Linked DNA regions of Homo sapiens. The protein of the gene in region 3 purifies or fractionates together with the protein of the main gene of each other region. This does not show direct contact. Each region holds a gene or a part of one and is shown on either strand. Other genes may lie near its edges. The genes, in order: CDK5RAP2, CSNK1D, AKAP9 and PRKACA.

Region 1 (8,164 bases), on a different chromosome or scaffold from region 3:
CAGCTACTTGGGAGGCTGAGGCAGGAGAATTGCTTGAACCCGGGAGGCGGAGGTTGCAGTGCCACTGGACCCCAGCCTGGGTGACAGAGTGAGACTGTGTCTCAAAAACAAAAACAAAAACAAAAACAAAGCGTGTCATTGCCATGAAAGACAGAACTGTCAGAGACTGGAGGAGAGTAAGGAGATGTAACAAGTAAATGCAGTGTGGAATATTGGATTGGATCCTGGACCAGCAAAAGGGAATTAATGGGAAAAGATTAAATTTAAATAAGATCTGTAATAAGTCATATTGTATCAATGTAATTTCTTATTTTTGACAATTGTGCTATGGTTGTGGAAGATGTTAATATTTTAGAAATTCTTTGTACTATTTTTGCAACTTTTTTCTAAGTTTGAAATTATTTCTAAATAAAAAACTAAGAAAGAAGGAAAGAAAAAAAAGTGTGACCTTTGGGAAATCTCTTCCCCTCTCTGAGCCTTTAGTTTCTTCTTCTGTAGAGTAGGGCGATCAACCCAATTCACTTCACAGCATCATGAGGATAAAACGGAAGAGTGCAAAGTAGTAGCATTGCGTATATATTGATCCTATAAAAAGTTATTTTTGCTGTTAGTAATGGCAGTGCAAATGTCTTGATCTGTTAAAGCTTCAGGAGGGTTCTACCCAAATGAAAAACATCTGACTGCAAGCTACTTCCTCCCAGCCATTTGATATGACCTTGTCTGAGGAAATAATAATGCCAGCTTTGTGGTTGGGTGGCTGTTGTCAAGGAGATAGCCCCAGATAGCCCAAACAGCTGGTGGTAGTGACGTCACCTCTAGGTTTGGCAGAAAGATCATGGTGAGACAGAGACAGGACAAAGGCCTCTGTCTCTGAACATGAAACCACTACAGTAGCAGGAAAACCAACTTCCAAATAGCCTTTCCTTTGTGCAATTGATTCTATTTTCAGTTTCTAGGTTCACTAAAGGGTTTAGCACGCAACCCAGGGACATGGTCATGCTGAACAAGGCAATGGACTAATCATAATGAGAGATCCTAGGCTGGGCGTGATGGCTCATGTCTATAACCCCAGTACTTTCTGACGCTGAGGTGGGAGGATCATTTGAGCCCAAGAGTTCGAGACCAGCCTGGGCAACATACCAAGACCCCATCTCTACTAAAAATAAACAAATTAGTCCGGCATGGTGGCACCTGCTTGTGGTCCCAGCTACTCGGGAGGCTGAGGTGGGAGGATCACCTGAGCCTGGAAGGTGGAGGCTGCAGTGAGCTATGATCACTCTTATTGTACTCCAGCCTGGTTGACAAAGCAAGACCCTGTGTCCAAAAAAAAAATTAAATAAGTTAAAAAAACAACCCAACTCCTCACAGGTTCTTTCATCTTCAATAATGTCTAAGGTATTCAATTAGATGAGGCAACCATGTGAACTCAGCATTGTCCTCCCCATTTTACACATGAAAATCGAAGTGTAGCAAGGGGAAGGAACCCCAGGTCACAGGATAAATGGGAGGAGTTTCCAGAGTCAGAATCCAGGTGTCCAGACTTCCAGTTCTGTAAACTGCCCACACTAAGATTCACCTCTTAGCCACTTTGAAGCAGTTTCCCAAGGAGTAGAGTCTGGTGAACACAACCCTTAAATACTGTCGTCTGGATGTAGACCTTGCCTCTTAGTACTAAATTCTAAAGCAAAAGAGAAACCCAAATGGGGATGACAGGTTGCCTGAAACAATCAAGGTGTTGGAATTCAAAGGGCCCTGGTCTCAATTCCAGCTCTGGCACTTACCAGCTGTAGGACCTTCAGTAAGTAGTTTTTACCTTTTGCAGCCTCAGTCTTCTCAATTGTAAGTCAGATAGTAGCGCCTCCTGCAGAAGGTTGTTGGGAGGGTTAAATGAGGTGGTGCATGTAATATGCCTGGAACAAGTGACGTATAAGACATGCTCAAAATGTATAAGTTCTCTTCCTTGTTTATATTCTCAAGAGTTTTCATTGGCTGGAGATGCAAAGTTAGTTCTTTCATGTGGGAAGTGTTAGCCTCCCTCCCCAGGAGAGAGTTGGTTGTATGTTAGTAGCTTTGAAATAAACACAGAAGCCAGGCACAGTGGCTCACACCTGTAATCCCAGCACTTTGGGAGGCCGAGGTGGGTGGATCACCTGAGGTCAGGAGTTCGAGGCCAGCCTGGCCAACATGGTGAAACCCCGTCTCTACTAAAAATACGAAAATTAGCTGGGCGTGGTGGCAGGTGCCTGTAATCCCAGCTACTTGGGAGGCTGAGGTGGGAGAATCGCTTGAATCCAGGAGGTTGCAGTGAGCTGAGATCGCGTCACTGTATTCCAGCCTGGGCAACAGAGCAAGACTCCATCTTAAAAAAAAAAAAAAAAAGAAATGTAGAAATCACCTCCAGAGCTGTAACATCCTGAGAGACCCTGAGAGGTTCAGCCCTCTCATTTAACAGATGTAGAAGCTGAGGTCCACAGAGAAGTGATTGGCCAGGCCGGGTGGGGTGGCTCATGCCTGTAATCCCAGCACTTTGGGAGGCTGAGGTGGGTGGATCACCTGAGGTCAGGAGTTCGAGACCAACCTGACCAAGATGGACAAACCCTGCCTCTACTAAAAATACAAAACTAGCCGGACGTGGCAGTGCATGCCTATAATTCCAGCCACTTGGGAGGCTGAGGCAGGAGAATCGCTTGAACCCGGGAGGCAGAGGTTGTGGTGAACCGAGATCGTGCCATTGCACTCCAGCCTGGGCAACAAGAGCAAAACTCCATCTCAAAAAAAAAAAAAAAGGTGATCTGCCAAAGATCACAGAGTTGGTGGCAGAGCCAGGGTGGGAATCCTGACACCCCAACTTCCCTGCTTTTGGACACACCTATCTCATGGGTTGAACTTACTGGCAAGGAGTATTGGTTCCTGGGCTTCAAGGACTGCCCCGTTCCTGAGGCAGTGCACCAGGTGTGCTAAGCTTTCCCTCTTTTTCATGCTTTTATCATTGCTAATTGTGGGTGTGGTTGAAGATCTAGAGAAAGAAGGGGGACAGGCAAATAATCGCGGGCTTTGGAAGCCTAACTAAAGCTGAGAGAGAGACAGAGAGAGAGAGAGAAAGAGAGAGAATGAATATGAATCTGGGATACACAGAATTACTATTGACAGAGGTCCTAAAAGTATCTCTGATTATTCTCACAAAAACCTTGCAGGATAGGTATTGGCCTTATTTCCAGACTGATTGATTGAATCACTCATTCATTTAACATACATTTTCAAATAGCTGCTGAGTGGCAGACATAGTGCTAGGTGTTGAGGATATAGCAGTGAACAATTCAGAATATAGTCCCTGCCCCATGCAGCTTCCAGTCTAGTGCAAGGAAAGACATTTAAAAAATGATTTTACACACACACACACACACACAAATTGCAAAATATGGTAAGTGCCACAAAGGAATAATTTGCATTGCTAGGAATACAAGAAGTGGCTTGATTTAGATTAAATGACTAGGGAAGGCTTCTTTTGAAAAGTATCAATAATTGGTTAATTACTTAACTGAAGAATGAGGGCCTGGTGCAGTGGCTCAGGCCTATAACCCCAGCACTTTGGGAGGCCAAGGTGGGAGGATTGCTTGAGGCCAGGAGTTCAAGACCAGCCTGGGCAACATAGTGAGACCCTGTCTCTATTTAAAAAAAAAAAAAAAAGAATGAGGAAACAGGGTGAAAGGGGAATTGTTCAAGATTACTGGGAAAGTCACTATCTATCCACTCACCAACCATTTCAAGTTATTTTCATCGGGCTCTCTCACAAGGGCCTGCAGAGGAAGGAGCAACACTGAGTTGAGGAGGGGAAGGTTAATTTCATTGCTTAAGCTCTGCCAAGATTATCTAAGTGTTTGGTGATTGCTATGTGCTTTAAGAAAGGCAGCCAAGGGGCCGGTGCTGTGGCTCACGCCTGTAATCCCAGCAGTTTGGAAGGCCGGGGTGGGCAGATCACGAGGTCAGGAGATTGAGACCATCCTGGCCAACATGGTGAAACCCCGTCTCTACTAAACATACAAAAATTACCCGGGTGTGGTGGCGCAAGGCCGAGGCAGAAGAATCGCTTAAACCCAGAAGGTGAAGGTTGCAGTGAGCTGAGATCGGGCCACTGCACTCCAGCCTGGCGACAGAGGCACCATTTCAAAAAAAAAAAAAAAGAAAGGCAGCCAGGGTTATGCAGAGAGCCCTCATCTAGTTGGCAGGAGCTGCAGACCCCCACTCCAGTTGAAAGACATTGTCAATACTTAATTACTTTGGGAGAGTCCTTTCCTCTTGCTGGCCCTCAGTTTTCTGACCACAGGTGCCTTTGAGTCCTAATGGTAATAAAAGACCAATAGGTGAGAGACTGGAGTGGGAGTGCTGTTGACCACTGGCTCATGGGAATGAGTTATTTGCTTCAAACTAAGTCTGCAAATTACTGTTTGCCTTGAGATTCCGCACGTAGTATTTTTCCAAAGCAAGGCAGCACTCAGTTATCTGAGTTTCAACTTAAGGTCAAATCCCAAAGTTTTGGGGTCATTATTCTAGAAAAGCAAACACGAGGTTAGGAACTTTGAGGATTCCTGAGTGGCTGTATTCATTTCCATCTCCCGCGTAAATTAACGGACTAGGGCCCGCTTTGGCCCTCAACAAAGATGGCACCCGCCCTCGCCTCTCCCTAAGTGCCCTCACAAAAAATGGCAGCCGGCCTTTTTTTGTCTCTTATTTTTGCTTGGCTTAAGCACGGATGCTTTGCCCTTAGTTAAGATGGCACCTATCCCCGCTTCCCTGCCCGTCCTCTGGCGCCAGCCGGTCGGCTTCACTGCGTGCGCCTCCGTGACCCCGCCTCGTTTCCGTAGGAAGAAGCGCCGGGAAAGATGGCGGCGTCTGTGGTTTGAATTCCAGCGGCGCCGCCAGAGTCTGAACAAGAGCTGGGGTGGAGGGGGCGGGGACCTGGGGAGCCCGGCGGGTCGCTATCGCGGGGGGTACTAGTGGCGCCGCCGCCACAGACACCAACGCTGTCGCCACCTCTGTAGCCATGATGGACTTGGTGTTGGAAGAGGACGTCACCGTCCCTGGGACGCTCAGCGGCTGCAGGTGCGGCCGGGGCATTGGTGGTCGTGGTAACCGGGCCGGGGTTCCAGCTGGTGGGATTTCGTTCTAACGCGGCCTTGGGGTTTGCTCTTGAGGGTGTCTGGCCAGGGGCAGTGTGTGGGGTGGGTTCCTTCGGAGAGGGTCTCTGGGGGGCCCACCACCTGACACTCTGGAGGGCTGGGAGCCGCGACCTGCACCACAATTGCCAGTAGCATTGCGCCATGTACTTTGTAGAGCGTGTGAAGAACAGGTAAGGAGTTTTCTGAAAGAGTAGGACGAGGGTGGGGCCACTTGGAGTATCCCGTTAGTGGGGATTGGTGGAGAACAGGGACCTTGAGGGCACCTGATGGTTCCTTCTGGTTTGAGAGTTTGTTTTCATTATGGAGAGAGTGTAGCCGGTATGCCCAGACTTTGCTTTTTGGGTCACATAGTGGCCACCCAGGAGGCAATGGAGTGCAATGATTAAGAACCTTGGCTAGAGTTGGACAAAACTGGATTCAAATCCAGCCCTGTAAACTGACTAGCTGTGTGACCTTGGTAAAGTGATTTCACCGGCTTTCCCATCTGTAAAATGGGCTAGTAATATCCACCCAACAGAGTTGGGGTGAGGATTAAAAGAGGTGATGCCTGTCGAGCCATTTGCTTGGCAGGTGTAGTGCCTGCCACATAATCAGTGCTTAAAAAATGATCTTGTGTTGCCATTAGTGTCATTATTACTACTGTCATCAAAGGTGATATGAATCAGGGAATAATGGCCAAGAGTGGCCTCCCATGGACCTGCCCCAAGAGACTGTGGGAGTCCCCATTGCTGGTGGAGCTGGGGTCTGGTAGGAAGGCCTAACAGAGCGCAACTCTGCTCCACGGCTGGCCCCTGTGGTTGTCCTAGACTCCTGGTTGGAGAGTGAGTAGAGGGAAGAGGAGGAGAGCCCTGACGGAGAACCTGCACTGTTTATCCAGCTCTACTATGGACAAGCTGCTGCTTTTAGTCAACAGATCCTAATTGAAAGGGTGACCATGTTATTTATTGTGCTAACTGGGACACTTAAGAGTGAAAAGAGCCAGGTGCGGTGGCTCACCTGTGTAATCCTAGCCCTTGGGGAGGCCGAGGTGGGCCGATTTCTTGAGCTCAGGAGTGTGAGATCAGCCTGGGCAACATGGTGAAATCCTATCTCTACAAAAACTACAAAGATTAGCCAGGCGTGGTGGCATGCACTTGTAGTCCCAGCCGCTCGGGAGGCTGAGGCAGGAGGATTGCATGAGCCCGGAAGGTTGATGCTGCAGTGAGCTGTGTTCATGCCACTGCACTGTAGCCTGGGTGACAAAGTGAGACTCTATCTTTAAAAAAAAAAAAAAGGAAAGTGAAAATAATTAATATTTATGCCCGGGCAGCAGACATAAAGAGGGCCTATCTTGGGTAAACCTGGACAAATGGTTTTTCTGTTTATTGAGAACCTTCATGTATGAGGCACAGACTAAGATGCTTTGCAGTTCCTGTCTAATTGGGTCCTGTGATATTTCATCATGCCCTTTTCTATCTATTTTACATCCACTGCCCCAATATATTGGGAGTATGGCTTCTCTCTTGTATTGTCCTTTGCACCTCTAATAGTTTTTTATACTACAATTTGAAAACTATTTTTTATTTATTTATTTTTTTGAGACGGAGTCTTGCTTTGTGACCAGGCTGGAGTGCAGTGGCGCGATCTCGGCTCACTTCAACCTCCGCCTCCCGGGTTCAAGCAATTCTCCTGCCTGAGCCTCCGGAGTAGCTGGGATTACAGGAGTGCACCACCGTGCGTGGCTAATTTTTGTATTTTAGTAGAGACGGGATTTCACCATGTTGGCCAGGATGGTCTCCATCTCCTGATCTCATGATCTGCTCTCCTTGGCCTCCCAAAGTTCTGGGATTACAGGCGTGAGCCACCGCGCCCGGCGTGAGAACTATTTTTTAAATATAAATCTGCTCTTCACAGTCTGCTGCTTTATACTTTTAATGCTGCTTATTGCTGTTATCATAACTTCCATTATTATTCTCTCAGATAGCCATTCTTATTTCAGTGCTTTTTGGCCAGACACTTGGGTTTTGGGGTCCCAGGCCTAGCTGGGTTTTAATCCCAGTTCTGCTACTTAACAACCCCTTGATCTGGGGCAAGTCACTCATCATCTGTGAGCCTCAGTGTTTATCATCTGTAAAAGGGGTTGGTATAAAGCCTAGGGTTGGCATAAGGATTAAAATGAATCTTAAAAAGTTTAGCTCAGTGTCTGACCCAGAGTAACTACTCAACAGATCAGCAAATATTCTCCTTTCCCTCATCTCCCTGCCTTTGCAGGACGTAGATACTGCATACATTCCATCTTAACCATTTTAAAGCATGGTTCAGTTGTATTAAATATATTTGTATTATTGCTCAACGGTCACCACTATCTATCTTCGTAACTCTCCATCTTGCAAAACAGAAACTGTGTCCCTGTTAAAACAGTAACTCCCTATTCCCCCCTTCTCCCAGCCTCTGACAATCACCATTCTACTTTCTGTCTCTATGATTTTTTTTTTTTTTTTTTGAGACAGGGTCTCGCTTTGTTGCCCAGGCTGGAGTGCAGTGGAGTGATCTTGGCTCACTGCAACCTCCGCCTCCAGAGTTCAAGCAATTCTCATGGTTCAGCCACTTAGTGGCCGGGACTACAGGCATGCCCCACTACGCCTGGCTAATTTTTGTATTTTTGGTAGAGACGGGGTTTCACCAGGTTGACCAGGCTGGTCTTGAACTCCTGGCCTCAAGTGTTGTGCCTGCCTCGGCCTCCCAGAGTGCTGGGATTATAGGTATGTGCCATTGCGCCCAGCCTGTCTCTATGATTTTGACTACTCTAAGTGTCGCGTATAAGTAGAATCATACACTATTTGTCCTTCTGTGACTGGTTTATTTAACTTAGCATTATGTCCTCAAGGTTCATGCGTGTTGTAGTATGTGTCAGAATTTCTTTCCTTTTTAAGGCTTTTGTTTTTAATTTTTTTTAGAGACAGTCTTGCTCTGTTACCCATGCTGGTCTTAAATTCCTGGGCTCAAGT
Region 2 (7,406 bases), on a different chromosome or scaffold from region 3:
CCCCGCTTTCCTCCCCAGCTGTCACCATTTGGGGCCTGTCTTTGGCCTCCGATGGTTCCTGTCCCTCTCCTCTTTCTGCACGTGTTAGTGAGCATGTTCACAGAGCAGCAGGGGGTAGCTGCTGCCCATTTGGAAGTTTAAGGAAGTTCTGAGCCCACAGGGAGATGCCATGGCGAGTGGGGTTTTTTCGATTGTTGGGGGAGCTGAGAGGCCTGGCTCTGACCCCTTGTGGGGATGATGCTGTCATCCCATGAGGAGAAACGTGCAGCCTGTGGGGGGCTTTGCAGGCAGTCTCGTCCCAGTGCCCTTTGGTAGGTATTTTCTCACGTGGCCGGGGCAGCCTAGGACCTAGGGTTGCTTTCTGCCAAAGCTGGTTCCATTCCGGCCTCACCTCCTGCCTCCTCAGGGTGCCAGCCGGGCCGCCGATGACGCCGAGCGGGAGCGCAGGGACCGAGAGGAGCGGCTGAGACACTCGCGGAACCCGGCTACCCGCGGCCTCCCTTCCACAGCCTCCGGCCGCCTGCGGGGGACGCAGGAAGTGGCTCCCCCCACACCCCTCACCCCTACCTCACACACGGGTGAGTGCCCCCCTCCCAGCGCTCTGGGGCTGGCTCTGGGGTGACTTCTTGTGTCTTGGGGTTGGTGGGGACAACAGGGTACTTGGTGGTGGACACTAAGTGCCCTGTGTCAGGCGATGCTCGCTCCTGAGGGTGGATGAGCCAGGCTGCCCAGGCGCCTTTAGAAATGCCGGCACCTGCTGGTGTGCGTGATTCCTCCCGCATCTCACGTTCCTCCCCTGTGAGCCCCTTGACCTCGCTCCCATGTCCCTTTGTGTCCCTCCGGCCGGATCTGAGTGTTGGTGGCCATCGGCCACAGCCAGGTCCTGACTGTCCAGGCAGCCCAGGGTCCTCTCTGGCCACAGCCTCTCATAGAAAGCCCCGAGTGAGAGGCAGCAGACGGGGGCGGCCCACTCCGTTTCTCTCCCTGTCCTCAGCTAACACCTCCCCCCGGCCCGTCTCCGGCATGGAGAGAGAGCGGAAAGTGAGTATGCGGCTGCACCGCGGGGCCCCCGTCAACATCTCCTCGTCCGACCTCACAGGCCGACAAGATACCTCTCGCATGTCCACCTCACAGGTAGGTGCAGAGCTCCCGGGCGGGCGCTGGGCCTCGGGCTACCCCGTCCGAGTCAAGAGCGGGCTGTGGTTTCTCCAGGGCTTCTTCTTTCCTTTCTTCCCCCCATTTTTGAGAGTTTTTAATCTCGCCAGGGTGTGGCGTCTTGGTTGCAGATGAGGCTTCTCGGGAGGGCCTGGGAGACATGCTGGGCCGTCATGGGGCTTGTCTCCTGGTTGCAGGTGGCCAGTCTCAGGTCTCAGGTCCCTGAGGCCAGCAAACCGTGGGGGCTTTCTCCTGCTGTTTGAGTGCCCCGCTGCCCGCAGCCGTCCCCAGGCAGCTGACACCGCTCGCCTGCTTGCGCCCCATTGTGGGTGCCCCCAGCCCGAGGGAGCCTTCCTCATTCTTCCTCATTCTTGCCACTGGCCAGGGATGGAGGCCCGTAGGGACCTCCACGGGCTTCTTGTGAGACCCTCCCTGGTGGCATGCCCTGCAACGAGGCTTTCCTTCTTTTGACGGCCTCACCTGTCTTCCCTTGGACGAGAAGTACCCTGTTGCGCAGCCCAGGCCTAGCCACGGCCACCGCCTCTTCAGCATCCTGCAGCGGTCTCTCCTCTCCTCGCTCTGGCTTTTGTTGTCTTTTGCGTTTGCTAACGTGCTCTTTGAACTAGAACAGCTTTCTCCATATGGATCCATTATATTTCTTCAAATAGTTTTCTGGGTTGTTCGCCAACAGGGGCAGGGTTAGTGGGGCAGGGCTGTTTCACCAGCAGGCATCCTGGGGGGTGCCCAGATCCCCCACGGGTCTTCCGGATGAGCAGGAACTCAGTTCAGAAATGCCCTGGAGCCTGGCTCTGGGCTTGTGGGGAGGTGTTTGTTGGGATCACAGGATGGAGCCAGGCCTGCTGCCGTGAGCGGGGCTGGGTGTAGCTGGCTAGCCAGGAACATGCCGGAGTGGGGAGCACTCTTGACCACTTGCCGTCTTTTAATGATTGGGGTTTTACTGCACGTTTCTAATTCACTAATAATTTCACTAGAAACAGACCTTTTTGTATAACTTCTTCCCAAAGAGACCAAAGATGCAGGGATTTTGGCTTCGTGGTTATTTTGACTTTGTGGTTATATGAATTGGGCTCGAGGGGTCTGGGCTGCGTCACGAGAATGGGTCCCTTACGTGCACACAACCCTGCTGTCACCTCCAGACACAGCACAGAAAGGGTTTAACTGGCTTCTTTCCACGAGCCTGGCACTTGCGCATCAGTTCCTGTGAGCAGTTCCCGGGAGGGTCTGCCCGTGCCCTCGTGTCTTGATGTGCGGCTGGCTCTGTAGCCCCTGAACCATGGTACAGGAGCCCAGAGTGCTCCCCATGCTGGGTGCTGACCGGACTTGGACAGCCTCGCCCCAGCGCTTGGCTGACAAAGACTAGGGAAGGGGCCTGAGTGCTTTTTGTTTCTTTTAAAGAAAGTAAAGTGTCCAGTGGTTTGGGATCTTTGTGGGCAGTGAAGGTGTCCTGAGCGTGCTGAGTAGCCACAGCCCTGAGTCCAGCTGCCTTTTCTCGGTACACGGCCTTGGCGGCACCTGGGTGTGGCTGTTGTAGCCACCAGCCCCCAAGGTGGCCGTGAGCAGTGTCTCCTTCCATGGTGAGCTGTGGCAGGAACCCGCAGCTGGCTCTTAGGCCCTCGTTTTCCATATGAGGAAATACAACGTGGGCTCTAACAGCAGGGAGGAGTCTCCAGAGAGAGCTGGTTTGGGGGTGTGTTCTCTCCAAAAGAAGCCTCTTGGCCTCTGCTCCTGGACACCCTGGGGGGCCTTCCTGAGAGGCATGTTGAGGGCTCCCCACCTCCAGGGCGGGCCCCCTCCTTTGTCACCATCTCACAGGAAGGCTTTGGCCGTGTGTCCTTCCTGCCAGACTCTGCCAGCACCAGCACACGTGGTGGCTGTGAGCAGCAGCTCCCGTTTTGAATCCCAAGGGGGAATACAGGAGGCTCAATTGCTCTGAGCGCCTCACCTGTTTGCTCGGGTGAGCTGGAGACACAGTCACCGTGGGCAGTGACTCATCCCCGGCCAGTCTTCCTCCTCGGGCCGTCGCTCTTCCCTGTTCTTTCTGCTCCTCTCAGGAGACCTTGCGCCCTGTGGAGATGGGAGGAGGCAGCAGGAAGGTCTCCCAGGGCTTGCTGGCCGTGGCTGGGTGTGGATGGGTGGAAGACCACGTGGCAGCCTGCCTGTAGGTCACAGAGGCCCCCATAGTTGTAGGGCCCCGCCCCAGCCCGGACTCCGCCTGGGTCTGTTCCCTCTTCGCCCCCTCTCTTTTCGGGCTGTTGGTGTTCGGCCAGGGCTCTTTGGCTACAGTAGCCTGGGCCCTAAAGGCCATCTAGTTGCTGAGTCTGTTTGGGGTTTTTACTTGGTGAGAAGAAGGCCTTGTCATTCCAACAGTCGATGACTCGCTTTGATCAACTCCTGCCCAGGACTAGGCCTGAGCCCTGTCGTCGTACCGGCGAGGATGTGCGTCTCCCCTGCCTTCAGGCTGTGCCCTGAGACCCAGTTGTGGGGCTGCCCAGCACCTGCCATCCTGCTGGGATCAGGTTTTCTTAGTGCTTGAGAAGACTCAGGAGGGCCTGTCCCATGCCATTGTTGGCCTTAAGAGCAAGTGATTCCAGAAGAGGAGTGGGCACCACTCTCATCCAGAGGCCCGTCCTGAGAGGCAAGTGAGGCTGTGCTCTGTGCCTGGGCTCCCCCAGGTGGCACCTGTCGGTCTGTGGACCTGGTTGAGGCAAGGATGCCCATCTGGACATGGAGCCGACACAGGTAGTCAGGGGGCCAGCGGGACGCTTACCAACAGCTGTCTTTTCCCCACCTCAGAATAGCATTCCTTTCGAACACCACGGCAAGTAGCTGCTCGTCTCCCATCGGAAGGCAGCACTGGGTGAGTGTGCGCGTGGCGGGCGCCAGGCAGCAGCGCCAGGTGGGTGGGAGCCACCATGCCCCACCCATGGGAGCTTGCAGGTGGGCTGGGCTTGCATGCCAGGTGCTGGAGGTAGAGTGAGGCTTCTTCTGCTCTGTTCTTCTTGTGGGGTGCAGAGCGGCGGCAGTCCGCTGCCCAGTCTTGGGGGGAGGCTGTCCACAGAGAGCTTTGGAACAGAGTGACCCCAGGAGACCATCCTGTTGGCCTGTGGCCTCCCCGTGACTGCGTTCCGTGTGCCGTTGCTCTCCTCCTGTCCTGGGTGCCCACCCGTGAGGCAGGAGTGGCAAGGCGGGTGCCCCGAGCACTTGAGTTGCCTTGTCTGCGGTCGGCCGTGCCTGGAGGGGCGTCTGTGTCCTGCTCAGCTGGGTGGCTCCACGCTTGGTGTTGGGGGCTCCTAAGCTCTTGCTGCGCCACACTCTGGGCAGTCTCTGCCATGCCAGCTTTTCTAGTCGCCTCTCTCTTCCTGTCTCATTTATCTCTGTCCTTGTTTTGTGTTTCTTTTCACACTTGGTCTCTGCCCAGCCGTCTTGTCCACGCAGCTTCGTCTGTATTAACTCCTCCAGCCGCAGCCCACTCACTCCCCGCCGTCGGTGCATGGCCGGCGTCCACGCTGTGCTCCCTCCTCGGCGGCCACGCGCGCTCGGCGGCTCCTTCCAGCAGGGGCTTGCGCTTCTGTCGGGTCTGTGCCGCTGGGAGACCCGCTGCAGTTTTCACACTGTGCACACTCTGGAAATGTGTTGACAGGAACTGCTTTTCATGTCTTCCCTGAGAGGGGTACCCATTTTCAAACACCAGGTTCCTTTCCAGGAAGGGAGGCAGGAGCACCCGTCTCCGCTCCACTCGGATCCTTCGACCCTGCCGAGCCCGGCTCCGCGGGCACCTTGCTTGCATGCCTCTTCCTCCTTCCCGTCTTCCTGTCACTCGTTCTGCTGAGCACGTGTCCCAGCCACAGAGGCCCCTGTGCGTGGCGGGGGACGCAGGCGTCTAGACTGGGGCTAGGCGGTGGCGGTGCGTCCCCTCCCTGCCCAGCACCGTCACTGTGGTATCTGCCTGGCCGGCTCCCCCAGCCCCATGCTGACCTTCTCCTGTGCTTTGGCTCCGACAGATTCCTGGTCGGGTGGCTTCCAGTGGTCTTCAGTCTGTCGTGCACCGATGAGAACTCTCCTTATTGCTGTGAAGGGCAGACAATGCATGGCTGATCTACTCTGTTACCAATGGCTTTACTAGTGACACGTCCCCCGGTCTAGGATCGAAATGTTAACACCGGGAGCTCTCCAGGCCACTCACCCAGCGACGCTCGTGGGGGAAACATACTAAACGGACAGACTCCAAGAGCTGCCACCGCTGGGGCTGCACTGCGGCCCCCCACGTGAACTCGGTTGTAACGGGGCTGGGAAGAAAAGCAGAGAGAGAATTGCAGAGAATCAGACTCCTTTTCCAGGGCCTCAGCTCCCTCCAGTGGTGGCCGCCCTGTACTCCCTGACGATTCCACTGTAACTACCAATCTTCTACTTGGTTAAGACAGTTTTGTATCATTTTGCTAAAAATTATTGGCTTAAATCTGTGTAAAGAAAATCTGTCTTTTTATTGTTTCTTGTCTGTTTTTGCAGTCTTACAAAAAAAATGTTGACTAAGGAATTCTGAGACAGGCTGGCTTGGAGTTAGTGTATGAGGTGGAGTCGGGCAGGGAGAAGGTGCAGGTGGATCTCAAGGGTGTGTGCTGTGTTTGTTTTGCAGTGTTTTATTGTCCGCTTTGGAGAGGAGATTTCTCATCAAAAGTCCGTGGTGTGTGTGTGTGCCCGTGTGTGGTGGGACCTCTTCAACCTGATTTTGGCGTCTCACCCTCCCTCCTCCCGTAATTGACATGCCTGCTGTCAGGAACTCTTGAGGCCCTCGGAGAGCAGTTAGGGACCGCAGGCTGCCGCGGGGCAGGGGTGCAGTGGGTGTTACCAGGCAAAGCACTGCGCGCTTCTTCCCCAGGAGGTGGGCAGGCAGCTGAGAGCTTGGAAGCAGAGGCTTTGAGACCCTAGCAGGACAATTGGGAGTCCCAGGATTCAAGGTGGAAGATGCGTTTCTGGTCCCTTGGGAGAGGACTGTGAACCGAGAGGTGGTTACTGTAGTGTTTGTTGCCTTGCTGCCTTTGCACTCAGTCCATTTTCTCAGCACTCAATGCTCCTGTGCGGATTGGCACTCCGTCTGTATGAATGCCTGTGCTTAAAACCAGGAGCGGGGCTGTCCTTGCCACGTGCCAAGACTAGCTCAGAAAAGCCGGCAGGCCAGAAGGACCCACCCTGAGGTGCCAAGGAGCAGGTGACTCTCCCAACCGGACCCAGAACCTTCACGGCCAGAAAGTAGAGTCTGCGCTGTGACCTTCTGTTGGGCGCGTGTCTGTTGGTCAGAAGTGAAGCAGCGTGCGTGGGGCCGAGTCCCACCAGAAGGCAGGTGGCCTCCGTGAGCTGGTGCTGCCCCAGGCTCCATGCTGCTGTGCCCTGAGGTTCCCAGGATGCCTTCTCGCCTCTCACTCCGCAGCACTTGGGCGGTAGCCAGTGGCCATGTGCTCCCAACCCCAATGCGCAGGGCAGTCTGTGTTCGTGGGCACTTCGGCTGGACCCCATCACGATGGACGATGTTCCCTTTGGACTCTAGGGCTTCGAAGGTGTGCACCTTGGTTCTCCCTTCTCCTCCCCAGAGTTCCCCGGATGCCATAACTGGCTGGCGTCCCAGAACACAGTTGTTCACCCCCCCACCAGCTGGCTGGCCGTCTGCCTGAGCCCATGGATGCTTTCTCAATCCTAGGCTGGTTACTGTGTAAGCGTTTTGGAGTACGGGGCCTTGAGCGGGTGGGAGCTGTGTGTTGAAGTACAGAGGGAGGTTGGGGTGGGTCAGAGCCGAGTTAAGAGATTTTCTTTGTTGCTGGACCCCTTCTTGAAGGTAGACGTCCCCCACCCGGAGAGACGTCGCGCTGTGGCCTGAAGTGGCGCAAGCTTGCTTTGTAAATATCTGTGGTCCCGATGTAGTGCCCAGAACGTTTGTGCGAGGCAGCTCTGCGCCCGGGTTCCAGCCCGAGCCTCGCCGGGTCGCGTCTTCGGAGTGCTTGTGACAGTCCTTGCCCAGTATCTAGTCCCCGTCGCCCCGTGCAGGAGACGTAGGTAGGACGTCGTGTCAGCTGTGCACTGACGGCCAGTCTCCGAGCTGTGCGTTTGTATCGCCACTGTATTTGTGTACTTTAACAATCGTGTAAATAATAAATTCATAATGACTTCTACCTTTCTTCCCTCCCCTTTCCATGTGGTCTTTATTTCATCAGCTTGAGAGTTTTCACTGTGTTGAGGTG
Region 3 (7,406 bases):
ATTCCTTTATTCTTATGACTCATGTTTTAAGCATGCATACTTTGTAAAGCTAATATAGCACTCTTCATTTTATCTTGATAAACGTTTGTATAAACATTTTTTCTCTTTTGATAATTTTGTTATTAAAGATTACAAACTTAGAAGAGCAATTAGAACAGTTTAGAGAAGAACTGGAAAATAAGAATGAAGAAGTTCAACAATTACATATGCAATTAGAAATACAGAAAAAGGAATCTACTACCCGCCTACAAGAACTTGAACAGGAAAACAAATTATTTAAGGTAATTAGTTAAGAAAAACTTTTATCTGTAAATAAGTCATAGTTTCAGTCCTATATTGCTTTATTATTATTATTATTATTATTTCTTTCTTTTTTTTTTTTTTTTTGAGACTTAGTCTCACTCTGTTGCCCAGGCTGGAGTGCAATGGTGTGATCTCGGCTCATTGCAAGCTCCGCCTCCCTGGTTCAAGCAATTCTGCCTCAGCCTCCCGAGTAGCTGGGACTATAGGCACGTACCACCACGCCTGGCTAATTTTTGTATTTTTAGTAGAGATGGGGTTTCACCGTGTTAGCCAGGATGCTCTCGATCTCCTGACCTCGTGATCCGCCTGTCTTGGCCTCCCAAAGTGCTGGGATTACAGGCGTGAGCCACCACACCTGGCCCCTATATTGCTTTATTAAGCATTCGATAAATCCAGCTGTTAAATAATACTCAACAGAGGAACATTAACAGGCAGACACATTTGCATACAGCTTATTTTCAGCCCAACCTGAACATTTGAATTCATCATAAATGAAAATTTTGGGATCATTTATCAAAATATTTTAGAATTATTGATTTACAGTAACCATATGGTGTCTCTGATTTTATTCATTTGTACGTTATAGGCTCTGATTTCTTTTGTAATTATGTTCTGAAAATGATAGGTAATGATATATCCAACTGTGATAATTATTTTTGTTCCTAGGATGACATGGAGAAACTGGGACTTGCCATAAAGGAATCTGATGCCATGTCTACTCAAGACCAACATGTGCTATTTGGGAAATTTGCTCAAATAATACAGGAAAAAGAGGTAGAAATTGACCAATTAAATGAACAAGTTACGAAACTCCAGCAGCAACTTAAAATTACAACAGATAACAAGGTATACTCATTTAAAATTGATTATGAAATTAATATGAACCAGAGTTTTAAAGGGCAAAATGGTTATAATGTTGCTCCCCATTGAATTTAAAAAACAAACCAATTTTATTTTATTTTATTTTATTTTATTTATTTTTTTTGAGACAGAATCTCGCTCTGTCGCCCAGGCTGGAGTCCAATGGTGCAACCTCGGCTCACTGCAACCTCCACCTCCTAGGTTCAAGTGATTCTCCTGCCTCAGCCTCCCGAGTAGCTGGGATTACAGGCACCCACCATCACACCTGGCTAATTTTTTGTATTTTTAATAGAGATGGGGTTTCACCATGTTGACCAGGCTGGTCTCTATCTCCTGATGTCAGGTGATCCACCCACCTCAGCCTCCCAAAGTGCTGGTATTACTGGCATGAGCCACCACGCCTGGCCCAATTCTCTTTTATTAATTTTAATTTATTAAGACACATTGGTGGCCAGGCACAGAGGCTCACACCTGTAATCCTTATACTTTAGGAAGCCTAGGTGGGCGGATTGCTTGGGCCCAGGAGTTCAAGACCAGCCTGGGCAACATGGTGAAACTTTGTCTCTACAAAAAATATAAAAATTAACTGGACATGGTGGCATACCACCTGTAGTCCCAGCTGCAGTGAGCCTCATCATGCCACTGCACTCCAGCTTGGGTGACAGAGTGAGACCCTGTCTCAAAAAGAAAAAAAAAAAAAAGCAAAGACACATTGGTTTAATAATTTATATGTATTTTTCTCCCCTCCTAATATTGTCATAGGATTCTAATGTTTTTCAGAAAGGCTCTGTGACTTAGATTTTATCATGTTATTCTAACCAAATCTATTATAAATTATAATATTTAATATGAGTTAAGTAAGGTAATTACCTTTGGTGCCATCGGTTGTAGACTTTATTTCCGTACTTCATCCTTTTCCATTAAGAAGTATTGATATTGACTATTTTCCTAATAGGGAATCAGCAACTAAAAGCTTATATTACTTTATACTTAACAGAACTTTCTGAGCCTTGTTTGATATGATGGGGGAGATATTGGTCTATAATGAAATTAAGTAGTATGTCTGAGAAGTAGTGTATTATTTTTGTGTGTGATCATCTCTTTGAGGTACTGCCCTAAAATAAAGTAAAATTTTCAAAATGTAAATACATATATATTATGTATGTTACCTTTTTCATTAATTATTAGGTTATTGAAGAAAAAAATGAACTGATAAGGGATCTTGAAACCCAAATAGAATGTTTGATGAGTGATCAAGAATGTGTGAAGAGAAATAGAGAAGAAGAAATAGAGCAGCTCAATGAAGTGATTGAAAAACTTCAACAGGAATTGGCAAATATTGGACAGAAGACATCAATGAATGCTCATTCCCTCTCAGAAGAAGCAGACAGTTTAAAACATCAATTGGATGTGGTTATAGCTGAAAAGCTGGCCTTGGAACAGCAAGTAGAAACCGCTAATGAAGAAATGACCTTCATGAAAAATGTACTTAAAGAAACCAATTTTAAAATGAATCAGCTAACACAGGAATTATTCAGCTTAAAGAGAGAACGTGAAAGTGTGGAAAAGATTCAAAGCATACCAGAGAATAGTGTTAACGTGGCTATAGATCATCTGAGCAAAGACAAACCTGAACTAGAAGTAGTCCTTACAGAGGATGCTCTTAAATCCCTAGAAAATCAGACATACTTCAAATCTTTTGAAGAAAATGGCAAAGGTTCCATAATTAATTTGGAAACAAGGTTGCTACAACTTGAGAGCACTGTTAGTGCAAAGGACTTAGAACTTACCCAGTGTTATAAACAAATAAAAGACATGCAAGAACAAGGCCAGTTTGAAACAGAAATGCTTCAAAAGAAGATTGTAAACCTACAGAAAATAGTTGAAGAAAAAGTGGCTGCTGCTCTTGTCAGTCAAATCCAACTTGAGGCAGTTCAGGAATATGCAAAATTCTGTCAAGATAATCAAACAATTTCATCAGAACCTGAAAGAACAAATATTCAGAATTTAAATCAACTAAGAGAAGATGAGTTGGGGTCAGATATATCAGCATTAACCTTGAGAATATCAGAATTAGAAAGCCAGGTTGTTGAAATGCATACTAGTTTGATTTTAGAAAAAGAACAAGTAGAAATTGCAGAAAAAAATGTTTTAGAAAAAGAAAAGAAGCTGCTAGAACTACAGAAGCTATTGGAGGGCAATGAGAAAAAACAGAGAGAGAAAGAAAAGAAAAGAAGCCCTCAAGATGTTGAAGTTCTCAAGGTTAGTTTTGTATTTTATTAGTTTCATTTAAATACCCCAAGAAACTAAGCTGATTGCTAATTTACTAAATATGGTGTTCTGTTTACATCTAACAATTTATACAAGAAGGTTTTTATAAAAATATACCACTTATAAAAAATAAACTCTTGTTAAAAGAAAAACTAGGACAGGCGCGGTGGCCCACGCCTGTAATCCCAGCACTTTGGGAGGCCGAGGCGGGTGGATCTTGAGGTCAGGAGATCGAGACCATCCTGTCTAACACGGTGAAACCCCGTCTCTACTAAAAATACAAAAAATTATCCGGGCGTGGTGGTGGGTGCCTGTAGTCCCAGCTACTCGGGAGGCTGAGGCAGGAGAATGCTGTGAACCCGGGAGGCAGAGCTTGCAGTGAGCCAAGATCGCGCCACTGCACACTCCAACCTGGGTGACAGAGCGAGACTCCATCTCAAAAAAAAAAAAGAAGAAGAAAAACTAGACAAACTAAATTTACGAGAGTTTATTTGAACAAAAAAGGATTCACGTATTGGGTAGCATTCAGAACCAGAGGAGTTTCACAAATCTCTTTTGTGCAACAGTGGCCAGTGAATATTTATAGACAGAACTACCAAATAAAATACAGAAATAGCTTGATTAGTTACAGTTAGGTGTTTGCCTTATTTGGACCCAGTCTGCTCAGTTGACTGCTTGTCATTAGCTAAGAGTTGGCTGTTTATTATACTCCTAAGATACGTTTTCAGTTTGCTTACGTACTCCTAAGTTAGATTGTAGTTCCTTACATAGGAACTCAAGATACAGAGACAGCCTCAGGCCAAATTTAACTTAACACTGTGTAGTCATATTATTATCACTAAAATAATGGATACAGACTGTATTTTATGGTCTTTAAATATGATATTTATTTCATTAACATCATCATTAAATGGAGCAGTCAGAAGAAACTAAGAAACATTAATTTTAGCAAATGTTCTCTAGGATTTATGGGGATTTTTTTCTTAATTTGCTTCTAATATGCATGTTATGTTATCATTCCTTTTAAGTAATAATAAGTATGAAAATATGTTAGGATTGACAAAGAATGCAGACTTTACAGAAAGAAATCTATTATTTAATAGCATCTACTGAATTAATTAATGTGTGGGTGACATATTTTACAATTTTTTTTTTTTCTTGAGACAGAGTCTCGCTCTGTCGCCCAGGCTGGAGTTCAGTGGTGTGATCTCAGCTCACTGCAGCCTCCACCTCCTGGGTTTCCAGCAATTCTCCTGCCTCGGCCTCCCAGGCGGCTGGGATTACAGACACGCACCACCACACCCGGCTAATTTATATATATATATATATATATATATTTTTTTTTTTTTAGTAGAGACGAGGTTTCTCCATGTTAGCCAAGCTGGTCTCAAACTCCTGACCTCAAGTGATCCGCCTGCCTTGGCCTCCCAAAGTGCTAGGATTACAGGTGTTAGCCACTGCGCCTGGCCAGCTTTTACAAATTTTATACCTGATAATAGATTTCATCTGTTTTAAGTAAAAATGCGTAGTTGACCTCTGTAAGTTTACTTATGAGAAGATCTGAAATCGCAGTTATTTCTTAGCATATGACAGATAGGACAAGAGCTTTTTTTTCCTCCAAATTCTCACCTTATAAATTTATAACTTTGAGTAGCTGAACTTCAGTCTTCTCCAAACACCAGAAGATTAACTGATAAATCACAATTCTATAATTATATATTTTGCAAAGAATAATAATTCCCTGGCTTTTTCCTCCTTCATTGGAACTAAGTTACTTAAGTTATAGATAATTAAAATAGTAATATAACTTTCTTTTTTTCCTGGACACAGAGTCTTGCTTTGTTGCCCAGGCTGAAGTTTAGTGGCGCAGTCTTGGCTCATTGCAACCTCTCCCTCCTGAGCAGCTGGGACTACAGGTGTGCACCACAACACCTGGCTAATTTTTGTATTTTTTGTAGAGACAGGGTTTCGCCACGTTGCCCAGACTGGCCTCAAACTCCTGGCCTCAAATGATCTACCTGTCTCAGCCTCTCAAAGTGCTGGGATTACAGGCGTGAGCCACCGTGCCTGGCCTAAAATAGTAATGTAACTTTCCATTTTAGGATGTATATGAATAACATTACTTACCTTTTATTCCCAGAAAATCATTCTTTTCTCAAGAAGAAAATCATTGTCTCAAGAATATAAGATGATGGTTCTGAAAAAGCTTCTCTGTTTTTGGAAAGAGCATTGATTTGTTCCAACTCCTTATATCTGTAGGCAGTCATTCCTTGGATGGTTTTATTAGAATGTATAAGAGCCTTGAATTTAGCTATATTTTTTTTAAATTATGTGTTTCTTGTGTTTCCGCTGTCATTCAGACAACTACTGAGCTATTTCATAGCAATGAAGAAAGTGGATTTTTTAATGAACTCGAGGCTCTTAGAGCTGAATCAGTGGCTACCAAAGCAGAACTTGCCAGTTATAAAGAAAAGGCTGAAAAACTTCAAGAAGAGCTTTTGGTAAGATAAGTAACATAGCTCCTAATTCACTCATTTCTACCTATCTTAATTACGTTTCAAAGTATATACTCTTTTATAACAAATGAGCTCCATAACTTAAAAGCTAGATAAAAAGTATTTTGTGGATTTGATGAAAACTTTCATTGTTATAAATTTCTTTACCAACATCTTCTTGCTTGGTTTTCCTGGAAATCTTTCTTAGGAGGATACTTTTTATTTCCATTCTGTTAATGAAGGAGTAGAAAGTTGTTAAAGAGAACTGTATATCCCATGAGAACCAAAAATAGAAGCTAATAAAATTATTTCATTTCTATAGTAATCTATGACCATACGTACATACAAATATATATATGTAAACTGTGAGCGTTTCTGAAATGTTTTTCCTACTACTCTGAGGAAAATGAACGTATAATCATGAATTACATTCCTCCCACACCCTTTAAATTCTACATTTAATATGGGAAGATTTTAACTGAATGCCCTACTGTTCTATTCATTACGTTTTAGGTAAAAGAAACAAATATGACATCTCTTCAGAAAGACTTAAGCCAAGTTAGGGATCACCTCGCAGAGGCAAAAGAGAAATTGTCCATTTTAGAAAAAGAAGATGAGACTGAGGTACAAGAAAGCAAAAAGGCCTGCATGTTTGAGCCACTTCCTATAAAACTGAGTAAGAGCATTGCATCCCAGACAGATGGGACTCTGAAGATCAGTAGCAGCAATCAGACTCCACAAATTCTTGTTAAAAATGCAGGAATACAAATTAATTTACAGAGTGAATGTTCCTCAGAAGAAGTTACTGAAATAATCAGTCAGTTTACTGAAAAAATTGAGAAGATGCAAGAACTACATGCTGCTGAAATTTTGGACATGGAATCCAGACATATTTCAGAAACTGAAACCTTAAAGAGGGAACACTATGTTGCCGTTCAGTTACTGAAAGAGGAATGTGGTACCTTGAAGGCAGTGATACAGTGTCTGAGAAGTAAAGAGGTATTTGGTTTTTATAATATGTGTTTTTCAACATTGTGTGGTTTTTTAAAAAAAAAAAATCAGTTTAATTCATTTTGTAGATGACAAACCAAAATGCAACTCATTAAGGCACTTGATCTTTCTAAGTAGGTGTATTATCAAGGCAAGTTTTAAACTCCTAGTACAATATTCCTTTTTTTTCTTTTGTTATACTTTAAGTTCTGGGATACACGTGCAGGATGTGCAGGTTTGTTACACAGGTATACACGTGCCATGGTGGTTTGCTGCACCCATCAACCCGTCATCTACATTAGGTATTTCTCCTAAAGCTGTCCCTCCCCTAGCACCTCACCCCCGACAGGCCCCAGTGTGTGATGTTCCCCTCCCTGTGTCCATGTGTTCTCATTGTTTAACTCCCACTTATGAGTGAGAACATGCAGTGTTTGGTTTTCTGTTCTTGTGTTAGTCCGCTGAGAATGATGGTTTCCAGCTTCATCT
Region 4 (7,000 bases), on a different chromosome or scaffold from region 3:
CAAAGCCATTGGGAGAGCTGAGAGGGCCAAGAAAAAAGACTAAGGCCCAGGCTCTGGCCAAGTTGGAAGAATGGAGAGGGAGCAGCGGCCCCAGGGGGCAGGCGCCCAGGTCAGACAGCCAAGTGGGGCTCAGGTCGTGGCTGGCACTGGCTGAAGATACCCCTGGGAGCTGGCCCACAGGGGAAGGGGCAGAGCTAGTAAAAGGGAGCCCCCGATCCCCAGGACACAAGCAGATCCTGGCAAAGAGAGAAAAGCACCCCCCAAGAAGACCCTAGATGGGAAGAACTAGTGCCGTGTAACATCCTATGGATGCCTAAGACGGCCAAACACCTTCTGTGCCTTGGCAGTTGTATGGGTGCCCAAGAGGTCTTATCAAGGCAGCTCTCCCCTTAGCGCAACCGCGTCTACAGAAACTCGGAGGGCCCTATCTGTCCCTCCTCCACACCCAGTGGCCTCTGGGTTGGGTTTCTCTTCCTGCTCCCACCCCACGGCTCCCTAGCTCCCCCTGCAGGCAGGGTTCTGGGGACAGACAGCCGAACAGACACGGCAGGTCTCATGAGCCTTCCCAGCCACCGTAGTGCCGGTGCCCTGAGAACAGGACTGAGTGATGGCTTCCAACTCCAGCGATGGTGAGGCTGAGTCCTGTTACTATAGCAACTTCCTAGGCACACTCTGCCCCTTAAGTCAGGGAGGGGCTGCAGCGGGGTCTGGGGCACAGGCGAAGAGAAGAAGGATGTGAACCCCTGGCTGGCCCTGGAAACGCCTCCTGTACAGCCCCGGGCTGTGCGGCCTGGGGAAGAGAGAGGGGATCGGTGGCCCAGTTCAGACAAGGGAGGATGGTCCACCCGGCAGGGGGCCAGCTCAGAGAGGGGTGGTGGAGTGGTCCATCCCAGTGTTGGGGTTCAGCTCAGACTGTAGGATGAGCCATCCCAGTGTTGGGGTCCAGCTCAGAATGGGGGTCGTTCCAGCCAGTGTTGGGGTCCAGCTCAGAGTTGTGTCATTTAGGTAAGCCCAGAGCAGGGAATCCAGGCTCCACTGGAGGAATCAGCCAGCCTCGAGTAGGGGGCCCAGCCCAGGCTGGGCATTCCTGCCCCAGAATTCCCAGGACAGCCAGATTTCAAAAGGGCAGAAGGTCTGAGATTGTTGTCCGGAGGAAGGGGGTTCTGTGGCTGGGCTCCTTCCGAGAGAGACCCCAAGCCCCTTGCCCAAATTGATATTCTGCTGTTGCAATTCCCCATTCCCAGGGCGAGTTTCTAGATTTCTGCTTTCTGCTGTGGTCCTGGCTTTTCAAGGGGTGTCAAGGAGTTTTCCCTATGAACCCAAATGGAATCTGGACCAGAGTGAGAGCTGGCACCCCCCGTGTGGGAGATGTGGGCAGGGCGGCAGGCTGTACAGGCCAGCAGCTGGCTGGGTTACCATCCTCTGCCACTTCCTGTTGCTAGCAGGGGTCCTGGATGCCGGGCACACTCAAAGAGGCTGCCACTGACCCTCTGCTTCTTTTGGGATCTGGAAAGAAGGAGGAAGATGGTCAAGGCTGCCTCCCCCTCCCCCACCCCTGGGTTTAGCCGCTCGTTTCCGGTTTGGACTTTCATGGCCGAGAGTAGAGCCAAGCACAGGGCAAGGTTTGAGAGAGGCCAAGGACATCCCGGGATGCCTTTCCCCTCTCCACCCCCGCATAGGAGCAAAACAAAAGAGTCAGATATACCCATTTTCTCTCTCAGGATAGCAGGATTTGGGGGTTCCACATTGAAAGGGAGTTCAGGGGAGGAGGCAGGGTGGCTCTTGTCGCCCCCCGCCCCAAGCCTTTCTCTCCAGCTGTTCTTTCAGCGAATTAAGGGAGCTCTGGGGCCTCTTTAGCCCCTAAGGAGTCTCTGGCTGTTGCCTGATCCTGAACCTTAACTCTTTCCCCTCTGCCCAGTGGGCACTGCTCTGGGCACATCAGGCGCTGTCCTCTGCACAGTCCAGTGCCCACTGAGGAAGGCAGGGCCTGGCGTCCTGGGAGCAGTGAAGTCCGTGGAAAGGGAAGTTAGTTTTATCGCCCCGCCCTGGGGCACGCAGGCCAGCCAGAGGGACACCCTCGGGAGAATCTTCCCATTGCCTCCTGCCAAGGGAGCCCTCTGCAAACCTTGGCTAGCTTGGAGCAGGTACCTTTAAAAGCTTCTGTGGCAACCAGCTCCTCCTCCCTGGTCCCCTGAGGCCATCCCAAGGAAGCTGACTTAGAGGCTCTGCGTTTTCCTGGTTTCTCAGCAAAAGGAAGATTCCAGGGAGAGCCCAAGGGGGCTGGGGATGGATCTGGGATCAGGCAGCAGCCAGGGTGGGGACTTGGAGACCACCTTCCAGCTGTGGCTGCAGCTGCTCCTCTGGGCCCACCTGGCTGTACGTTTCCTGGGCTACCTGCACCGCACCTTCCGGGGGCCTAAGCCACAGCCAGCACCCTGAGCCTCCCTGGCCAGGGGGCAGAAGGCCGCCAGATCACCCCATCCCACCCACCCTTTATTCTACCCTTTCCTGGAAGAGACAGGAAGCAGAGGTGAGTGTGGGGCCTCTTGATTGAGGTTACCTGCCCCTCCCCCCCATCATCCCTCTCTCTGCCTGCTCCTCCTGGCACTGGCCTCCCCCATGCCCCATCCCCAAATCTGACAAGCTAACAGGGCTAGTGGCACCAGAGGGGACAGAGCCTGGGCGCTCTGGTCCTTTGAGAGGCCAGAGAAGGGCCATGCTAACAGCAAGGCACCCTGTGGAGCGACTCTGTGGGGCACCAGCGGACAGCCAGGGGCTGGGAGCTCAGCGAGTCGGGGAGGTGCAGGATTCAGCAATTCTTTCCTTTTTGCTAAGAGCAAAGGGAAAACGGACCAGACCTTTTGGATTCCCTTCAAGCCTGGCACCTCTCTGCCTTCTTGTGTGGGTGAAGGTAGAATCCCAAGAGGGCACCCTCCACCCTCCCCACCCACTGCTGAATTCTGTGTGGATTATTTGGAGGTTTCCAAGGAAGATGTTTTCTGTCACAAAGGTTCTATGACTGAAGCCAGGCACAGTGGCTCATGCCCGTAATCCCAGCACTTTGGGAGACTAAGGTGGGGGAATCCATTGAGGCCAGAAGTTGGAGACCAGCCTGGGCAACATAGCAAGACCCCATCTCAAAACAAAATAAAACACTCAAACAAAGGTTCTGCTAGTGAAAGTGTTGGATTTGGTGTGACCCCCAGGCTCAGGCCCCTGGGCTAGTTGGTGGCCCAGCCAGGCACCCATCTAGGACTCCTGGCCATTCATTGCCTATCCCCTCTCCGCCTGGTCATTTATTGTGGGGCCTTCTTGGCCACGGTCTCTCTCCATCTGCCATCTACCACTTTCTTTTTTTTTTTTTTGAGACAGAGTTTCACTCTTGTTGTCCAGGCTGGAGTGCAATGGCGCGATCTGAGCCCACTGCAACCTCTGCCTCCCGGGTTCAAGCAATTCTCCTGCCTCAGCCTCCTGAGTAGCTGGGATTACAGGCATGTGCCACCACGCCCAGCTAATTTTGTATTTTTAGTAGAGACAGGGTTTCTCCATGTTGGTCAGGCTGGTCTCAAACTCCCAACCTCAGGTGATCTGCCTGTCTCAGCCTCCCAAAGTGCTGGGATTACAGGCGTGAGCCACTGCACCCAGCCACCATCTACCACTTTCTAGCTCCATGAGGGCTCTTCTCTCTGAATGCTGAGGGAAAGCTCTGGAGACAGGTAGTGGGGGTGGCTCCCCACAAGGCCATGTGGGATTACTGGCAGGCAGATAACCAGCAATGCCAAAGGGCAAGTGTACAGGGCCCCTCGGTGGCAGCAAACCCAGGAACATCAGGGGGTTGAAGGCAGCTCTGTCCACATTGGCCACCCTGGTGCACTGGACTCAGCACTGAAACCAATGGCTGAGTTGGCAGTGAAGTAGTTAATCTCATGGGATGTGGGGGCAGGCAAGTGACCTCAGACCTGATCAGTCTTCTCCTCTGTACAGTGGGAATAACAGCAGCTCCCACCCCACAGGGTGAGAACGAAGCATAGAAAATACTCAGCAAGGGGCTGGTCCCTTGTAGCCCTAGGTGGTGGTTAAAAGGACAAGTCCATAATGCAAGAATCTGTCAGGCTGCGCATTTAAGATTTGAGCACTCAGTGTATCTCCTATATTTGTTTTTGGGGTTTTTTTATTATTACTTTTTTTTTTGAGACAGGGCCTCACTCTGTCACCCAGCCTGCAGTGTAATGGCTCAGTCACGGCTCACTGCAGGCTCTATGTCCCGGGCTTGAACAATCCTCCCACCTCTGCCTCCTGAGTAGCTGGGACTACAGGTGCATACCACCACACCTGGCTAATGTTTTTATTTTTTGTAGAGGGTTTTGATGTTGTCCAGGCTGGTCTCGAATTCCTGTATTCAAGCAATCCCCCCAACTCGGCCTCCCAGAGTATTATTATTTTTTTGAGAAAGAGTCTCACTCTTGCTCAGGCTGGAGTGTAGTGGTGTGATCATAGCTCACTGCAACCTCAATCTCCTGGGCTTTAAGCAATCTTCCTGCCTCAGCCTCCTGCTTAGCTGAAACTGCGGGCATGGGCCACTATGCTCAGCTAATTTTTTAATTGTTTTATTTTTTGTAGAGATTGGGTCTTGCTATGTTGCCAAGGCTGGTCTCTAATTCCAGGCCTCAAGCGATCCTCCAACCTCGGCCTTCTAAAGCACTGGGATTACAGGCATGAGCCACCGTTCCCGGCTCTCCCTATGTGTGTGTGTGTGTGTGTGTATATATATATATATATATATATATATATATATATTTTTTTTTTTTTTTTTTTTTTTTTTTTTGAGACAGAGTCTCACTCTGTCGCCTAGGCTGGAGTGCAGTGGCATGATCTCAGCTCACTGTAACCTCTGCCTCCCAAGTTCAAGAGATTTTCCTGCCCCAGCCTCCCAAATAGCTGGGATTACAGGCATGCGCCACCGTGCCCAGCTAATTTTTGTATTTTTAGTAGAGACGGGGTTTCACCATGTTGGCCAGGCTGGTTTCAAACTCCTGACCTCAAGTGATCTGCCTGCCTCGGCCTCCCAAAGTGCTGGGATTATAGACGTGAGCCACCATGCCCGATCGCTCCCCATATTTTCTTTTCTTTTTTCTTTTTTTTTTCTTAGACGAGTCTTGCTCTGTCACCCAGGCTGGAGTGCAGTGGTGCAATCTCGGCTCACTGCAACCTCAGTCTCCCGGATTCAAGCAATTCTCCTGCCTCAGCCTCCCAGGTAGCTAGGATTACAGGCACACATCACCACCACGCCTGGCTAATTTTTTTGTTTTGTTTTGGAGACAGAGTCTCGCCCCGTCGCCTAGGCTGGAGTGCAATGGCATGATCTCAGCTCACTGCAACTTCTGCCTCCCGGGTCGAAGCGATTCTCCTGCCACCATGCCCGGCTGATTTTTTTGTACTTTTAGTAGAAACGGGGTTTTACCATGTTGACCACGCTGGTCTTGAACTCCTGACCTCAAGTGATCTACCCGCCTTGGCCTCCCAAAGTGCTGGGATTATAGGTGTGACCCACCGTGCCTGGCCTCATTTTTTTATTTTTAGTAGAGATGGGGTTTCGCCATGTTGGCCAGGCTGGTCTCGAACTCCTGACCTTGTGATCCACCCACCTTGGCCTCCCAGAGTGCTGGGATTACAGACGTCAGCCACCTCACCCAGCCTCTCTCCCCATATTTTATACCTCAATTTAGAAAATAATAGGCTGGGCACGGTGGCTCATGCCTGTAATCCCAGCACTTTGGGAGGCCAAGGTGGGCAGATCACCTGAGGTCAGGAGTTCGAGACCAGCCTAGCCAACATGGCAAAACCCTGTCTCTACTAAACATACCAAAATTAGCTGGGCGTGGTGGCAGGTGTCTGTAATCCCAGCTACTCAGGAGGCTGAGGCAGGAGAATCATCTGAACCTGGGAGGCGGAGGTTGCAGTGAGCTGAGATTGTGCCACTGCACTCCAGCCTGGGCAACAAAGTGGGACTCCATCTCAAAAAAAAAAATAATAATAATTAAAAAAAATAAATTGGCCGGGCATGGTGGCTCACGCCTGTAATCCCAGCACTTTGGGAGGCCGAGGCGGGTGGATCACGAGGTCAGGAGATCGAGACCATCCTGGCTAACACGGTGAAACCCCGTCTCCACTAAAAAAAATACAAAAAATTCTCTGGGCGTGGTGGCAGGCGTCTGTAGTCCCAGCTACTCAGGAGGCTGAGGCAGGAGAATGGCGTGAGCACGGGAGGCGGAGCTTGCAGTGAGCGGAGATTGCGCCACTGCATTCCAGCCTGGGCGACAGAGGGAGACTCCGTCTCAATCAATCAATCAATCAATCAGTCAATAGATAGATAAATAAAAAATAATAATAGCTGACATTTATCTGGCACTATCATCACACGGGGCCACTGTTCAACTCCCTTTGTCAAGATGAACTCATTCATTCCTCAAAACCACCCCACTTTACAGATGAGGAAAACTGAGGCCTAGAGAGGTGAGATCAGTTACCCAAAGTCACAGAGTTCATCAGAGACCAGGCTGGGCTCTGAACTGGATCTTGACCCCAAGTCCTGGCCCTTAGCCACTTTGCTGGGCTGTGTCTCAGCAGAGACGAGAATGACTGTTTTCAAGCCTGTTTCCTGGGTTGTTAAGTGGAGACAATGGATACAAGGCAGGTTGCCGAGTGAGTCAGATGAGACAGTGTAGACAGCAGCCGGCACAGGGTCTGCCGGGGAAGTTTCAACATTAGCCAGGCGGTGATGTTCACCTTGGGATACCATGGGGCCGAGGAGTGGGCATCGGGCGAGACTTCCCTTGAACCAGCTCTGGAGCAATGCCCTTGCGATTGCCACGGAGAGGAACAGGGCCAGCTGGGGGCCAAGGTGACAGCTGAGCCCCCCAAGGGCACCTGCTACCCGAGCCCCCGAGGCCTCCATCCCAGGCCCGGCCTCCCCAGAGAAGGGGCCAGAGGAACAGCCAAA

The links.
Region 1: the proteins of AKAP9 (region 3) and CDK5RAP2 purify together in Homo sapiens (affinity purification with western blotting; 4 studies listed by BioGRID and IntAct, with this or other methods). This does not show direct contact.
Region 2: the proteins of AKAP9 (region 3) and CSNK1D purify together in Homo sapiens (affinity purification with mass spectrometry; 5 studies listed by BioGRID and IntAct, with this or other methods). This does not show direct contact.
Region 4: the proteins of AKAP9 (region 3) and PRKACA purify together in Homo sapiens (affinity purification with mass spectrometry; 7 studies listed by BioGRID and IntAct, with this or other methods). This does not show direct contact.

The regions. Positions count from the first base shown.
Region 1 is NC_000009.12:120,576,856-120,585,019, reverse strand, and holds the start of CDK5RAP2 (CDK5 regulatory subunit-associated protein 2), read left to right. Parts: upstream 1-4,852; 5' UTR 4,853-5,041; coding exon 5,042-5,100; intron 5,101-8,164. UniProt on the Homo sapiens protein: Potential regulator of CDK5 activity via its interaction with CDK5R1. Negative regulator of centriole disengagement (licensing) which maintains centriole engagement and cohesion. Involved in regulation of mitotic spindle orientation.
Region 2 is NC_000017.11:82,242,603-82,250,008, reverse strand, and holds the end of CSNK1D (casein kinase I isoform delta), read left to right. Parts: exon of another isoform or gene 1-311; intron 312-406; coding exon 407-578; intron 579-994; coding exon 995-1,134; coding exon of another isoform or gene 1,135-1,290; exon of another isoform or gene 1,291-3,537; intron 3,538-3,543; coding exon of another isoform or gene 3,544-3,645; exon of another isoform or gene 3,646-3,811; intron 3,812-3,969; coding exon of another isoform or gene 3,970-4,002; exon of another isoform or gene 4,003-4,033; intron 4,034-5,177; coding exon 5,178-5,228; 3' UTR 5,229-7,342; downstream 7,343-7,406. UniProt on the Homo sapiens protein: Essential serine/threonine-protein kinase that regulates diverse cellular growth and survival processes including Wnt signaling, DNA repair and circadian rhythms. It can phosphorylate a large number of proteins.
Region 3 is NC_000007.14:92,076,727-92,084,132, forward strand, and holds part of AKAP9 (A-kinase anchor protein 9), read left to right. Parts: intron 1-128; coding exon 129-281; intron 282-969; coding exon 970-1,149; intron 1,150-2,352; coding exon 2,353-3,426; intron 3,427-5,795; coding exon 5,796-5,936; intron 5,937-6,443; coding exon 6,444-6,929; intron 6,930-7,406. UniProt on the Homo sapiens protein: Scaffolding protein that assembles several protein kinases and phosphatases on the centrosome and Golgi apparatus. Required to maintain the integrity of the Golgi apparatus. Required for microtubule nucleation at the cis-side of the Golgi apparatus.
Region 4 is NC_000019.10:14,107,763-14,114,762, reverse strand, and holds part of PRKACA (cAMP-dependent protein kinase catalytic subunit alpha), read left to right. Parts: intron 1-571; exon of another isoform or gene 572-607; coding exon of another isoform or gene 608-629; intron 630-2,286; coding exon of another isoform or gene 2,287-2,439; intron 2,440-6,372; exon of another isoform or gene 6,373-6,778; coding exon of another isoform or gene 6,779-7,000. Other genes in the region: SMIM46 (small integral membrane protein 46), read left to right, coding at 2,287-2,439.